Linked DNA regions of Homo sapiens: region 1 is linked to region 2. A link means that fine-mapping ties the variant in region 2 to the expression of a gene that starts in the linked region. Tissue or cell type: lymphoblastoid cells. Region 2 holds a variant in brackets; the other region holds the start of a gene. All regions are shown on one strand. Distances are between the middles of the regions.

The links. PIP is the estimated chance that this variant, and not a neighbour inherited with it, causes the effect.
Region 1: it holds the start of KLRB1, and the variant in region 2 is fine-mapped to the expression of KLRB1 in lymphoblastoid cells (TwinsUK, PIP 0.91).

The regions. Positions count from the first base shown.
Region 1 is chr12:9,606,747-9,609,356 of GRCh38, forward strand. KLRB1 (killer cell lectin like receptor B1) reads right to left here and starts at 1,170. Exons shown (of 6, transcript NM_002258.3): 1 at 1,009-1,170. The coding sequence starts at 1,093.
Region 2 is chr12:9,459,597-9,462,364 of GRCh38, forward strand. It overlaps the pseudogene OVOS1P. Among named protein-coding and RNA genes, the nearest start is that of LINC02367, 94 kb to the left of the region's middle. The variant G/A (reference allele first, on the strand shown) is at 1,561.

The DNA.
Region 1 (2,610 bases), 150 kb after region 2:
TATATATATATATATTTTTTTTTTTTTTTTGAGATAGTCTTGCTGTGTCACCCAGGCTGGAGTACAGTGGCACAATTACAGCTCACTGCAGCCTTGATCTCTTGGGCTCAAGCAATCCTCTCACCTCAGCCTCCCGAGTAGCTAGGACCACAGGCACGTGCCCCACACTTGGCTATTTTTTTGTATTGTTTGTAGAGATGAGGTTTTGCCACATTGCCCAGGCTGGCCTTAAACTCCTGGACTCAAGCAAATCACCTTAGCCTACCAAAGTGTTGGGATTACAGGCATGAGCCACTGCAACTGGCCTACACGTTGTATTCTGAAAGGAATATTATGGATGAAAATGCACTGGGACTTAATCATAGTATTGATATTTTGTAGAGGAATTTGGAATAACGTAGGTTGTTATTACAGCAAGTTTGCAATGTGTCTTAAATATTCCTTAGTTCATACATGTAAAATATTTTTCCTTCCTTCCTTCCATCCTTCCTTCCTTCCTCCTTCTCTTTTTCTTTCTTTCCTTTCCTTTCTCTCTCTTTCTTTTTCTTTCTCTCCTTTCTTTCTTTCTTCTTTTCTTTCTCTTTCTTTCCTTTCTTTCTTTCTTTCTTCCTTTCTTTCTTTCTTTCTTTCTTTCTTTCTTTCTTTCTTTCTTTCTTTCTTTTCTTTCTTTCTTTCTTTCTTCCTTCTTTCCATCCCTGTAGAGCAGGGGTAACCAATAGGCAGTGTGCCCAGGGTAGCCTAAAGTGTTCAGAGTCTTTTAACCAAGGCTCAGTAAGACAAGTGATGTTTGCTTTTCATGCTAACTTGATTGAAAAAAATAAATGTATGAGGTTTAAATTTTTTTTCCCAAAGTTGTGATTATCTACAGGCAAGCCATGCAACACCCGTTAAACATTAATATAAAACTACTGCTCATCTTTAAAGCAATGATTTAAAGCCATAAATGTAACAGGAAGATCTAATTCTGGAAGACATACAAATGCCGAAAGGAAAATTAAAGCCACTTACCCCGAGGAAGAGATGAAGGTGAAGAACTTTCTGGGCCTGAGTCTGTGGGTAAGTTTAACTCAGCATATATTGCTTGTTGGTCCATGGCAGACAGAGGAAGGTGGCATTAAACTTGTGTGTAAGAACAAACTCTCAATTCTGTGAGGCAAAATCAGCAAAAGGAAGCTTTCTGCCTGCAGTACTTTGTTGTCTCTCTTTTGTCCCCACCCACATACACTTTTTGTTGGTGGTTATCTCCATAAATTACTGAGACAATCCACTGACTGCATGTTCATTATACCTAGCTATGTAATATCTACTTTCCTTAATTAACTGGCCTGTTGTTTGAGAAAATTCTGGGAGGCTCATTTGTTCTTGTTTTTCTAACCATCCCTTTTGTGTTCCTCTCTCAGGGCCAGGACCAGAGTGAAGCAAATGAGGCATAGCCTGGGGTTCCAATTTAAGGGGCCCCCAACAAAACTCACTAATTAACAGAAATAATATTTAGCACAATTTTGTAAAAGTAAAAATTAATGCAAAAAAGTCCATAATGCTATTCAAAGGCTCTAAAATCTTCCTGAAATATCTGTGCTCCAAAGAAAGTTGTGAAATGTGAAAAATGGAAACATAAATGTGAGAAAGCCCCCTGAATAACACAACAGAAAAAGCAATGTGCTAAAGATCAGTAGCCTACTGTTAGCTTAGCTCTAAAGGCACTCTTGGATATGATAGCATTTTCACATAAGTAAAAGTATTTGGAAACTGCCAGAATTGTAGGAAGTGGAGTATATGGAATTTTTTATCTCTTTGAAAGACTTTCTTTTTTTTTCAAGGTGATTATAGTATGTGTCTACTTTTTTTTTTTTACCTTTTTTTATTATTATTATACTTTAAGTTCACAATGTACAGGTTTGTTACATATGTATACATGTGCCATGTTGGTGTGCTGCACCCGTTAACTTGTCATTTACATTAGGTATATCTCCTAATGCTATCCCTCCCCCCTCCCCCCACCCCACGACAGGCCCCGGTGTGTGGTGTTCCCCTCCCTGTGTCCAAATATTCTCATTGTTCAATTCCAACCTATGAGTGAGAACATGCGGTGTTTGGTTTTCTGTCCTTGCAATAGTTTGCTCAGAATGATGGTTTCCAGCTTCATCCATGTCCCTACAAAGGACATGAACTCATCCTTTTTTATGGCTGCATACTATTCCATGGTGCATATGTGCCATATATTCTTAATCCAGTCTATCATTGATAGACATTTGGGATGGTTCACGAGTCTTTGCTATTGTGAATAGTGCCACAATAAACATATGTGTGCATGTGTCTTTATAGCAGCGTGATTTATAATCCTTTGGGTATATACCCAGTAATGAGATGGCTGGGTCAAATTCTAGTTCTAGTCCCTCGAGGAATCGCCACACTGTCTTCCACAATGGTTGAACTAGTTTAGAGTCCCACCAACAGTGTAAAAGTGTTCCTATTTCTCCACATCCTCTCCAGCACCTGTTTTTTCCTGACTTTTTAATGACTGTCATTCTAACTGGTGTGAGATGGTATCTCATTGTGGTTTAGATTTGCATTTCTCTGATGGCCAGTGATGATGAGCATTTTTTCATG
Region 2 (2,768 bases):
GTGCACAGGCTGAGCTTTGACTGCTAGTTCAGGTTCCCTGTCTTCCCAAACAGTGCTACTCCCTCTGTTGTAGACTTCCAGCAGGAATGGTTCTTGAGTTCTTTTCTCTGGCTGAATCACCAGTGCCTGTAGGCATAGGACATGTTTGGGTGATACCTGGATTCTTAGATGTTGTTTCTCAGGAGCAAAAGTGACGTGGGCATTTAATTTACATAACAAATCTTGGCCCAACAATGGAATAGGGCAATGTGGCATATACAGAAAGCTATACCTCAATCTTATATCCCTCAATTTACATTCTTAGGGCTTAAGAAAGAGTCTCTGTTGTAACTTCCCAGTGACTCCAGCCTTGGCTGGAAACATTGCGACAGTATCAACCAATAAGCCAGTCATTTTGTTCCCCACTGTCGCTTGTACCCAGGGCTCCTGTAGGGAAATTATTGTTGCTCTGTTAAATCAGGCGGAGTCCCTGTGCCCAATCAGTCTTCATCAGAGTCACAATCCTGCTCCACCATCTCCTTCTTTGGCGTATATTTCCCTTTTCCTCTCCCTTGTCTTTTTTATTACCATCTTTTCTCTGTAGGTTTGGGGGGCATACTTCTCATGTCCAGATTTCCCCACTGTAGGCACACTGGTCCTTGTCTAGGGATTCCTTTCTATTTCACCCCTCATTCTTCCACCTTTTTGAATAGTCTCCACAAAAATGGTTGCCTGTCTAGCTTTTCTTGTTTCTCTAGCATTGAAGTCTTTGTAAGCAATATCTGTAAACTGGGAAGGGTTCATTCCAACAGTCCCTTCCTGCTTTTCTAATTTTCTGTTAATGTCAGAAGCACTTTGGCTGATGAAAGTTATATTTATGACCCAAACATGTTCCAGAGCCTCTGGATCAATATCTGAATATTTTCTGTAAGCCTGATACACTTGTTCCAACCAAGCGGCTGGGTTTTCATTGGCCTCCTACCAGAGGTCATGGATGTTTTTTATTGAGGCTTTGCTGCTTAGGTACTCCCTTTCTTAGGAGTAATCCTACAGTCAAGATATAACCTCATTATTAAGGTTTCACTTGAGTTTCACTAAGGAAATTGCCTCTGGGGTGTTGGAGGACCCAGCAGGGTCTTGCTGGTATAGCCTTCTGGCTCCATCATTAGTCTTGTCTAAAAATAACCCCCTTTCATCATAAAATTTAATAATGCTTGTACACCTGCTATTGTGGAATGATGAGTAGAAAAAATACTGGTGAATATTTCAGTCATCTCCTATGGATCATCCCTATAGGATGGACTTGAATATTTTTCAATTTACTTAGTCAAAGATAGAAAATGGTGAATAACCAAAATAGCCCAGGAGTATGGCCCTGTGCGTTTAATCCTCCAGCGGGGAATTTGCATAACAGAAATTGTTCTGCCACATGAGGGTGTACGCTCTGGTCAAATTTAGTTGCCTTGTCAGGTCTTAAAAGGGGAGCCTATTTCTTGGCTACCTTTAAAATGAGGAGGGGCCACCACACCCTGTAAGTCTGTATTATCTGGATAATCCTCTGGTGGAGGGGGCAGAGATGGG[G/A]CAACTCAGGGTACTGTGCTGGTACTGCAGCTGGGGCCTCCATGGGAACTTGCACAGGCACCAGAGCAGGCTGCAATGGGACAGGCACCTGCAAAGCCTCAGCATCATTTGCCTGTGGAGGGTTTATAGTTGATAAGATTATCCTATCTCCTTCTCTTCCTCCTCAGGTAATGGAGAGTGAGGAGATTTTACCTGATATGGTCCTGTTTGCACCGTCAGCCAGCAACCTTTCTGGGAAGCATGCTTATTATGTACCAACATAGAAGCTTGAATATAAGGTATGCAGTCCCAATTTCCTGATCTCAGATTGAAATGTTCAAGCTGTAAATTCAAAGAACCATGTAATGGCCACCTATCTTCCTCATGTATCACGTACATTGGCCACACCTTATTGCAGTAGATTATCTTTTTTGTCGTAGGGTTATCACTGTAGGCTTACCAGTCAGCCAATATGAACCACAGCGGGCTCTGAGAGGGGATTGATGAAAAAAACTTCCCATGGTGGACACAAACAAAACACAACCAAAACAAATGAAGCACTTTTCCAACCCAGGCTTTCACAAAGGAAGAGACTGGTATGGAGTCACTATGAGTCATTTCTTCTACCAGTGGTACCACAAATGGTCCAAAGGCCCAAATGGTAAAGAAAGTGGACTACTACTTTGCACCCCAGTAGACTTACCTGGTTGTACAGCTCATCAGCTCATCCAAAAAGCTAGTTTCCCAGCACTTTGGGAGGCCAAGGCGGGCGGATCACGAGGTCAGGAGATGGAGACCATCCTGGCTAACAAGGTGAAACCCCATCTCTACTAAAAATACAAAAATTAGCCGGGCATGGTGGCGGGCGCCTGTAGTCCCAGCTACTCCTAGGATGCTGAGGCAGGAGAATGGGATGAACCCAGGAGGCAGAGCTTGCAGTGAGCCGAGATTGCGCCACTGCACACCAGCCTGGGCGACAGAGCGAGACTCCATCTCAAAAAAAATAAAAATAAAAAAAATAAAGCTAGTTTCCTCTCACCAACTAAAAGCAAAGGTAGGCAGTCAGTACTGAATGGGGGAAAGGAGGAAGTTTCCCTGAAGTAGAAAGAGTTTTGGCAGCCTCTCTTTGGCAGACTTTGGGGCTGTCTCTGCAGTTCCCTTCTGCCATGAGTAGCCAGTGCCACGGAGCATTTGCCGCTAACCTCTGGTAATGTGAGTGAGTTAGCCCT